Linked DNA regions of Homo sapiens: region 1 is linked to region 2. A link means that fine-mapping ties the variant in region 2 to the plasma level of a protein whose gene starts in the linked region. Region 2 holds a variant in brackets. A gene starts in the other region. All regions are shown on their forward strands.

Evidence for each region. PIP is the chance, under the fine-mapping model, that this variant and not a neighbour inherited with it causes the effect. Protein levels are from antibody-based Olink assays in UK Biobank. Linkage for the fine-mapping came from a reference panel and not from the study's own genotypes, which makes the PIPs less certain.
Region 1: RSPO1 starts here. The variant in region 2 is fine-mapped to the plasma level of the RSPO1 protein (UK Biobank, PIP above 0.99).

Annotation. Positions count from the first base shown.
Region 1 is chr1:37,632,115-37,637,487 of GRCh38, forward strand. RSPO1 (R-spondin 1) reads right to left here and starts at 2,778. Exons shown (of 7, transcript NM_001242908.2): 1 at 2,452-2,778; 2 at 173-239. RefSeq lists enhancers at 1,069-1,596, 2,125-2,652, 2,653-3,179.
Region 2 is chr20:45,352,585-45,357,957 of GRCh38, forward strand. No RefSeq gene overlaps it. Among named protein-coding and RNA genes, the nearest start is that of SDC4, 6.8 kb to the left of the region's middle. The variant G/A (reference allele first, on the strand shown) is at 2,168.

The DNA.
Region 1 (5,373 bases), not on the chromosome of region 2:
TGTCCCCTATGCATCTCTGCATTCCTTGTGCCAACCTGTCATGGTGCCTGGCAATTGAGGGTGAGTGCTCGGCAAATGTTAGCTCCCTTCTTTTTCCTCCCTCTCCTCTCCCTCTAAATTCCTTCTCAATCCTCCCAGGTCCTAGTTTTCAGCTGACCCCTGCCACACTCACCCAGTCCTTGCCAGCGGTGATCTTCTGGCCCACTCCCACCTGAATCACCAGGAAACCACAATCTCAGCTGGAAAATCGTAAGGAGGATCCAGATGTAAATTTCACTGAAGCAAGTGACACTGGCCTCCCCCACCTCTGGGATGGGAAGAGTTGCAAGCACTTTTTGAAAATGTACATATAGAATCAACCCTGTAAAGGGGCTAAGAGTTCCTCTATACCAGGGGGTACAAATGACATATATGATTGAAGCTGGATGTGGAGGGGGTAAACTGGAGGGTAAATGCCCCATCTAAAGGGAGCATATGCCGTTCAGCTCTGACTGATTGTTGAAAGATCTTCTGATTTTCTAAAAGAGGAGTGGAAAATCCAGGATCTTACATGAAATCTGATTTGAAATGCTGGACAGGTCTCGGACTAGGAACCCTGCAGCACCAAGCCTCAGAGGGCCACAGGTCCCTGCCTCAGTGGCTCCACATTCCTGCATCTAGTCCCTGACCCCATATGCGCACACACAGGCATGCACTCTTGCAGACATGGACAGCATGGGCTAGGGCTGAGAGAGGAGATATGAGCTGATGACTCCCTTTTAAGCAGGCTGCTTCATTTCTTTTAGAGTCCTCTGTCTGATTTCCTTTGAGCCATGGGCTATATGGCACTGGCAGTTTATGTTTTTGAGGCTCACTCTACACAGATAGAATGGGGACTGCTGGCAGTGCCTCAGGTTATTGGTGGGGGTAAGAAAGGGCATTTCTCTCTGCCACTGTGGGGGTGAGGGATTCACACTTGTTAGATGCCTCCCTCCACCTGCCATGTGCCAGGTCTTCGTTTACTCCTCACAATGGAAGGAGGAAGGTAGAATTATTTCCATTTTACAGGGGAAGAGACCTGGCCCTGAATGGTTAAGTGTCCCAGGGGTTACAGACCCAGTTAGGGACCTGCCCTCAGGTTTGCTACCCAGGACTGGGTGTGGGGAGGGCGGGGCAACCCGCTGGGAGCTGCTGAGTGTGGGGCACAACCCAGCTTGGGGAGTGGACCTGCAAAGTGGGGACGGGGCTGGTGGCAGAGGCAGAGCTGAGAAGGGAGACCAAAGCGAGAGGCCACAAGGGCCTCGGAGGGGAGTATACAGGTCGGGGAGGGGGACACAGCTGGAGGTGGAGCTGAGGGCAGAAACTCAGCCCCGGGAGGGGGCTGGAATCACTTTCACCTTCTTGCCTGCAATACCGTCAGAATAAAGTGGTACTCCATCAGGGGCCCGATACAGACCCAAAAATGTAAACTATCTAGATAATTTCGCATTAGCCCTCCCCGGGCCGGGCTACAGGCTGGAGAGTTTTGGCCGCCCAGCAGGCTGGCAGGCGGGGGCAGAAGAATTGCGGGCGGGGGGCGGGACAAAGTATGTGCCTGTCCGACCTGTCGGGATTAGCCTGTCTGTCGGAGCCAAGCCAGGTGCTGGGGCCGTGCCCCCCCTCCAAAAGCAAGGGCAGCGGAGGATGGCTTCTTCACCCCTCCATCACCCCCGCAAGCGCGCACATTCTTCTTCCCTCCCCCACCATCCCGCAGAGGCCCCAACAGGTGCCGAGGGAGACGCGGACCTGAGGTTCCCCTGGCTGGCCCTCAAGAGCCAAGAGAGCTGTCCACGTCTGAGAGGCCAGTTTCACAAGAAAACTCCTGCCCCCAAGCACACTCACTCCAAGTCTGTCCCGGCCCTCCAGGGAGTCCCGGGCGAACATAGCCCCCACCTCTCCCCAACTAAGCGATACCATCGGTTCCTGAGCGCCAGACCCCGAGGGCCAGGGAGCCGCGCCACTTCGCTGCGCACCGGGGGCCGCAGCGCATGCCGCCTGCCACGTCGAACCCAGGCCCAGGCTGCGGACTGGGGTGGGGGTCACCAGAGACCGTGGGACTTGGGGGAATCCGAGCCAATGAGCCCCAGGATCAAGAACTTCTGGATTGGAGGCGGGGTATAAACAGGGCTGGTGGACTTGGGGAATTCAGGACTGCGAGTGAGGATGATCACCCGGGGCTGCGGGATGGAGGGGAGTTCGAGGGGAAGAGGCTGCCTGCTGGATTGAGGGCCGACGGGGGCGGCAGACTTGCAGGAAGGGTGCAGGAGGTGCCCTGTCCTGATCGCCGACCGGAGAGCGATCAGACTCCCCTTCCTTTCTGTCTCCCCCCACGCACCCAGCTAGAACCAGCCCCGACGGGAGGGCCCGCCGCGCCCCAGCTCCCGGGGAAGGGGGCGCTGGGGAGAAGGATGGGGCAGCTACGAGGGGACTCACCTTCGTGCTGCCAGTCGCGACGGGGGCAGGCCCGGGAGGGGCGAGGGCGCGGCCCGCTCACCCGCCCGCTGCGGGACTGTCCTGGGCGCCCGGCTCGCCTGCGCTCCGCCCGCCCGTTCCCAAGTTGCTCAATCTGCGGACGGCTCACGCCCTCGGGGCCAGCGCCCCACCCGGCGCATCGGTCCTCCGGGGCGGCTCGGAGCTGCCCTCGTTCTCCGCAGCACCCGAGCGGATGCCCTACTCTGGCCGGTCGCTCCGGGCTCTCTGCCCTGCGCTGGTGCTCTCCGTCGCGCCTCCGCTCGGCCGGAGCTCCCAGCCCGGAGAGGGGCCAGTCCTCTGCGAGCACCAGGGAGGGAATCCCCCCCTTCGCAGTCCCCCCCGCGAGCCGGCCCCCCTTCCAGGGATCCGCAAGAAAAAATGGACTGGAGCGCCGGCCCGGGAGTCCACACGTCCTTGCCCGAAGCTGGCGCTCTGCGCTCCGAGCGCGGGGCTGGCGGAGGGACAAGTCCCCAGGACCCTGGGGCAGACCTTCTGCTTTTGTCCCCTGCCCCTCCCCGCGCCCCGGGGATTCCACGCAGCCAGAGAACCCGCAACAACTCCGCTCATCTTGGCGTCAGAACGCGGCCGGAGACCCTCATGAAAACCCCAGTTTCCCCATCAGGAACCTGGAAAGTGACAAGGAACAGGCTCCACAGAGCCTGGTGGTCTTGACCACACCCTCTCCCCCTTCAGGGTCAAATCTTCTGTGCATCTTCCCAGTTCAGAAGAAATACCAAGGCTATCAGATCCTGGGCACCGAGGTGAGGACACCTCCAGAGGCAGCTGGTAGGTGAGAGTGAGGGAGATCATACAATAACACTTAGATTCATGTCTGGCTCTATCACTTACCAGCTGTGTGGTCATGCCTAGGTTACTGAACCTCTCTGAATCGCAAGGCTTCATCTGTTCTGAGGGTTCAATGAAATGAAGGCTACAAACTTCTGGTTAATGGTGGGAACCCCATACATGTTTGTGGAATGAGTCTTGAACGGCTACAGACACCTGCAGTGACCCAGATGATGTTGAAGTCAAGCCCGAAGAAGGGAGGGAAGGAGACTCACTTCTTAGAGTGACAAACAGCTGTTCTCCAGCTTCACTTCAGATTGGGAAAGGAAAATGGGCTAAAACTGTAGTTAGTGGGAGTTAAGCTAGAGCAGAAAAGATGTACTGATTGTGTGTGTGTATAGGGGGGGTGAGTAATCAAGACAGGCTGTGGAATCTCCCTCTTAGGAGAGAAGGGGGGAGCCCTGACTATTGAGTTAAGGGCACAGGGTCGTTTACAATGACAGGAGGATGGATGTAATGACCCCTAGAGTGTCCCAATGGCCAGGGAACAGGGATGGTGGATAGCCAGAGAAAGTGGAGCAGTTGGGTCCGAAATGCCCAGTGTCTGGGTTCATTCAGCCAGAGCATTGCCAAGTTTGCAGGAGGCAAACAGTCATTTCCGAGTTGGTCCAGGGGCCCCCTCCAACCTCCAACCCCCACTCAAGTCCCTCCTCTCTCACCTCTGCCCTGAGCCTTCCCTGCGTCTAACCGGCCCTTGGCTATGCTCTGTGTCTAATCAAACAGCCCCAAATGCCGAAAACTCAATGTTTATTTTATTTTATTTTTTTACACACTTGCATAACTCTCTGACAAGCCACGCCAGGCATTGGGCTTTTTGTTTGGTTTTATTTTGTTGCATTTAGGAAAAAAAAGAGGGAGAGAGAGAGAAAAGAGAAGAAATAACACAAACCACACAGCCCTAGAAGCTGTCCTAGGCCAGGCAGTGGGCTCGGGTTTCCTGCCTGAGGAAAAGTCTGTGGAAGTTGGGGGGCCTCGTTACTAGGCTCAGGAATGAGTGAGAAAGGGAAGAAAGCCACCTGGGTGACAGAAGATAACGAATTAGAACCATGTGACAATAATGGGTGAATAAGAAAGAATGTTTCTTGTGCACCTAATGTATGCCAAGCACTGTGTTTTGCACATATATTCTGTTACCTAATTTCGCAACTATTGTAGTTCCTTTCTTTTTTCCTTTTTTCCCATAAATGTAAATTCTGATCCTCAGAGACGCCAAGTCAATTGCTCAGAGACACACAGCCTGCAAGTGGCCAGCCCAGTTCAGGTTATGCCAAATGAGTTGTTTCCCTGGGAAAGCTGTGTTGCTCTAAATTTGCATATGCTGTTCATTCTGCTTAGAAATGTCTTTTTCTCGGCCAGGCGCAGTGGCTCACGCCTGTAATCCCAGCACTTTGGGAGGCTGAGGCAGTCGGATCACGAGGTCAGGAGATCGAGACCATCCTGGCTAACACGGTGAAACCCCGTCTCTACTAAAATTGCAAAAAATTAGCTGGGTGTGGTGGCGGGTGCCTGTAGTCCCAGCTATCGGGGAGGCTGAGGCAGGAGAATGGCATGAACCCGGGAGGCAGAGCTTGCAGCGAGCCGAGATCACGCCACTGCACTCTAGCCTGGGCAACAGAGCAAGACTCCGTCTCAAAAAAAGAAATGTCTTTTTCTCTAATCCTTTTTGTGTCATCCTTCAAAAGGCCTGTATGAAGTTTAGCCTGACCACCTCGAAAGTCAGCCTCCAAACCTTGTGTAGACCTGTACACCACCCATCATTGGCCAATGATGGTCTCTTCCACTGCAGTGAGTTCCTAAGGAACTGGGAGGATGTTCACAGACAAAAGCAGAACTCTGTCCGCACGGAAGAAGGGCTTTTGGATTGGAAACTACTGGCATCTGTGATCATTACTGTTACTCTAGAAAAAGCTGACTTTGTTACTGTCAATTTATAGGCTCCCCTGAAAACTCTAGTCTTCATAACCCTGCTGTTCTCTGAAATCTTTCATTCATTCATTCATTCTTTCTATTTTTTTATTTTTTTATTTTTTAGAAGAA
Region 2 (5,373 bases):
ACCCAATCTCATATATTTATAGTAACGCAAACAGCCTAACACAGCAAGCATATATTTATGTCAATTGTATACTTTAAATATGTATAGCTTATTTTATGCCAGTTGTACCTTAATGAAGCTGTTTAAATTATTGCAGGACTTTTTAAAAGAGTCATCAGTAAGCCTCTGACGCATTAAAAAAAAACACATTATGATAAAATTTTGTGGTGGAACATGGAGTAGAAATTTGACTTCAAATAGAAAAAGAAATGATGCAAAATGTCTGACTCTTAGAAAAGAGCTTGTTCATGTATTTTTTAAATGGATGATTGTAGGTATCGAATTGCTAGGGCATTTAATTTAACTGGATACATTTAAAAGAGTGATGTAATTGTTTTACTTTTACGTGTATAAATTTACAATATGCCAGAAATTACAACCTTTGCAACTATTTAAACTTTTGATGAAAAATGTTAAGCTATCAACTAAAAATTATGTCAAGGAGTACCTAGTCTTAAAATAATCATTTACAGAGTACACTAGCAAAAAAACAAAAACAAAAACTGAAAACAGCTCGTTTAGAGAGTTAATGGAAGTTCTTCTATAAAACTATCTTAACCTCCTGGAATTAAGGAAATAATTTCCCCTTCCCCAAGTTCTGAGAATCTCTAAAGGGATGCAACATGTTTGAATATAATTATTTGTGGATGTATGGGTCTTTAACCTGGGCTCCATGACTGGGGGCAGAGGACACATGCATGGTCAGTACTCCTCTAGGTTATGTGTCTCTGCATACATTATTTTGGGGCAAGAAACTTCAGATTCTTTCTTTATATCCACAAAAAGAGGATGTTTGGGGGATCCTCCTTTTGGGTGATCCTGACCCCCAAAGAGTTAAAAATAATTTGTCCAAAACCTGAGATTCTTTGAGAAGTTTTATTGGGTTCTTCTTTGGCCTCCAAAAAACAAAATGCAGTAGTCAAAGGTTTGTAATACTGAATAGGAGTTCCTAATTTCCTGCATGGGGCTGAGGTACAAAAACCCAAACAACCAAACAAAACCCACAGTGTTTACAGCCAGAAGTTCTTCATTAAAATCCTGTTTCCAGGACTTGCCAACTGGAGGAAAGTTTGTGAGTCCCTTTGCTCCTCCCTACAATGGAGATAATTCCCTCTTGAACTAATTAGGAGAATGGAATAAGGTGAAGTGGTGAACACATAACATATACTCACCTATGTTGGGTCCAGCACTCTTTCTGTATATTCTAACCTGAGATTGAGTGAGTCTGAGAGATGGCATTGGTCAAACACTTTACATCCTCCCCCTAGCTTCCTTTCAAGCAAAAGGAAATGATCTAGGACATCAACAGGCAGCCCCCTCCCATGGAGCTAAAAAATGAGCTCAGACCCAGCCTATAGCAGAGGTGGTGTCCCTCCCCCTTTTCTCAGACTTCCTAGGCCGGAGTTAACCAAGGCTAGGTGCACACCTGGTACATCCAGAGACACCTTAAATGCTACCTTCTCCTGGAATCCTCCATCCTCTTCTTTTAATTCTCATTTCTTCCTGCCTTGAGGTTTCTAGGACTCTATCTGTCCCACTCTTTGGGCAGGCATCCCTTTCTCACTCATGTTAGTTTTAGGTGAAGAGCACAGTCTTCAAAGTTAAAGAGACCTAGATTGCAATCTTGGTGGTATGGAGCAAGACACTTTTTCTCTCTGTGCCTCAGTTTTCTCATGTGTCCCCCCATGTAATTTGAGGGTCATTATAGTTCTTAACATCATAAAAATGTTAAGACTACAGTGCTTAGCACAATACGGAGCATCAAAGTGTTATCTATTTTTATAATCAAGGGGGCCTCCCCATAAGAGTCTTGACTTACTCCCCTCCCCAGCAGCTCCTCACACATGGTTAATAACAGGTAACACATTACTATTTTCAGAACAGAAAAAGGATTGGGCCATAGGGCTCTCGCCCAGGATGGTGCCAACCCTTTCTGGTCTTCCTCAGTTTATGTAAATCTCTCTCCAGCTACAGATAATGACAGCTTAGAGTTTCCAGGGGCTGTGGAATGTCCAGCCACTGCCTTGCATAACCACAGAAACTAAGAACACTAGGCCCAGAAGGGTCCTCTCAAATCATTCAGTCCAACAGTACCCGCATTATAAGATAGGCAAACCGAGGCCCACAC[G/A]GTGAATCAGCATCCACCACAGGCATTTTGAAGAATTCTAAAAATAACACCTCCAATTACTCTTTCCACTTGCTTTGCTTTATTTTTTTGTCGTAACATTTCCCTTACCTGCCATCACGCACTTATTCTTTTACTTGTTTATTTTCTGTTTTCTCTGCCACATGTAAGTTTCATGAGGGCAAGAACATTGTTGTGTTCACAACTGCATCCCTTGCACCTTGTCCAAGGTCTGGCAGAGGTTTACATTCAGTAAATACTTGTCGCATGGATAACTGGATGAATGCCATTTGGACATTTTCCCTTAGAGGCTCAGATGTAGCAATTCACTCACTTGGTCATTTATCCAAAAAACATCTGATGAATATCTTGTATGTGAGAAGCTTTTTGATAAATCCTGGTGAACAAGACCTGTCCGTGTTCTTAAGCAGCTCCCTGATTAGCGGACAATAGCTGCCAGCTATACAGTAGACTGAGGATCTACTATATGCCAAGCTGTGGGCTGGCAACTTTATATGCATCTTCTCTGTCTTAGCTCAGTTCTTGCAATTGCGAGGAAACATGCCTCACTCAGGACTCCTTAAGAAAAGGCTTAGGAGTTATTAGGAGGACCGGGAGGGCTAAAGGTTAAAACTGAAAGGGAAACATCAAGGACTGAGATGATGCCACAGACTGGCTGACTCATCTCTTGCTCTTTAAGCCTGCTTATTCTTTCTTTAAGAGTGTCTCTTCTTTTTCCTGGATGTGTGCCTCTCTCTCTTTTACTGACTTACTGGTTCTCTCTTCTAGTCTAAATTTTGGGAGGGGACCACAAGACTCATTGGCTTGGCCAATGGCCTTCCTTATTCCTTAAGTAAGCGCCTGCAGCCCAGACCACTTTTTGGATTACTATTTGGCCTAGAGGTTGAACATTTAGCTTCTCACATACCCTGAGCAGAGTGTATGTTTAATCAGAAGGGAGTGTTGAGCATCATCTTCACTTGGATGCTGTGAAGTAAGTAGTTTTATCTCTATTTTACAGATGAGAAAACAGGCGGAGCAAGGAGAAATGACAACAAAACCGTAACTGTAACAAAGCTGCCCTAACCCACCTGCAAATCTACAATTGAGAAATCCATTTCTGTTGCCCCTGAGATTTGTGGGGTGTTTGTTAAGTAGCAAAAGCTGACTGATACAAGATTCAAACTCAAGTTTCTTTGATTCTGTCTGCATCACCATGCTGTCTCACTGAACTTACAGCCCTGATTCCTGTTCCTGATTCCCAAGTGTCCTGTCCTAAAAGGAGCAGAGATAAATATTGTATTCATCCATTTTCTGATGTTATAACAGAATCCCACACTGTTGGTGTTCTGAGTATACTGACATTCCTTGACGCTAGATTTTATATTGTTGATTGACTTGTTTATCATCTCTCTCCTCTATGAGATTAGAGTATTTTCTCTTTATTCACTTTATTCATTTATATCCATACCACCTGGATCAGTTTCTGGCACATAATAAATGCTCAATGAATATTTATCAAGTAGATGATTGAATGAATAAATAATGATAAAAAGGAAGTGTAAAAAAACAACTTTTCATCTTAAAACAAGGCCCTGAGTCCTTTAAGGTCAGAATAAAGAATAATTTCTAGGTAGGGACAGAAAGTTTAGTACATGATGGATGGGGTCAAGAATCAAGGTAAGAAAACTTGAAGGTGTGAGGCTGGGCACAGTGTCTCATGCCTGTAACCCCAGCCCTCTGGGAGGCCATGGCATGAGGATCACGTGAGCCCAGAAGTTTGAGACCAGCCTGGGCAACATAGTGAGATTCCTTTTCTACATAAAATAAAATAAAAATAGCCAGGCCTGATGGTATGCACCTGTAGTCCCAGCTACTCAGGAGGTTGAGGTGGGAAGATTGCTTCAGCCCCGGAGTGTGAGCCTGCAGTGAGATATGATAGCGCCACTGCACTCCAGCCTGGGTGACAGAGCAAGGACCTGTCTCTAAAATAACAACAAAGGCCGGGCACAGTGGCTTACACCTGTAATCCCAACACTTTAGGAGGCTGAGGTGGGCAGATCACCTGAGGTCAGGAGTTCGAAACCAGCCTGACCAACATGGTGAAACCCCGTCTCTACTAAAAATACAAAATTAGCCGGGCATGGTGGCACATGCCTGTAAATCCTAGCTAGTCAGGAGGCTGAGGTAGGAGAATCACTTGAACCCAGGAGGCGGAGGTTGCAGTGAGCCAAGATCACACCGTTACACTCTAGACTGAGCAACAAGAGTGAAACTCCGTCTTAAAAATAAAATAAAATAAAACAACAGTACAACAATGAAAATAATACAAATAAAAATTAAAATATAGTTTCACAACTATTTACATTGTATTAGATGTTTAGAGATGACTTAAAGAATGTGGGAAGATTGCATAGACTATATGCAAATACTATACCATTTTATATAAAGGATTTGAGCTTCTCTGGGTTTTCATATCTGCCAGGAGTCCTGGAACCAACCACCCATGGATGCTGAGGGATGGCTGTACTCAGAGGTCCTTCCACCCACTGTCATGCCTGGCATCATCCACCCTGCATAGATAGAGGGTTTGCAGAAAACCCCTGATCATTAGACACAGAACACAGAAAACCAGTTTCCTGACTCCCTCTGGTGTGAAGGAAAGAACAGGGAGGTTGGGGTGGAAAGTTAGAGTGGAAAGACAGACACCCCAGATGTTTCTTAACTTTTGATTATTCCAGCTGACAAGACATGCCACACCTCAATGTGTACTGAGTGTGAGTCACTTCCTTCTCTAAGCCTCAATTTCCTTACCTGTAACATGTGGACAATGTTTATACCTACATCCCTGGGGCTGTTGCAACAATAAGATGAGGTCAGGTAGATGAAAGCTGTATGTCACTGTAATGTCCAGTGCCTTTTTTTTTTTTTGAGACAGAGTCTCACTCTGTCACCCAGGCTGGAGTGCAGTGGTACAATCTCAGCTCACTGCAACCTCTGCCTCGCAGGTTCAAGCAATTCTCCTGCCTCAGCCTCCCAAGTAGCTGGGATTACAGGCATGCACCACCACTCCTGGCTAATTTTTGTATTTTTTGTACAGACAGGGTTTCTCCATGTTGGCCAGGCTGGCCGCCAACTCCTGATTGCAGGTGGATCCACCCACCTCAGCCTCCCAAAGTGTTGGAATTACAGGCATGAACCACCTTGCC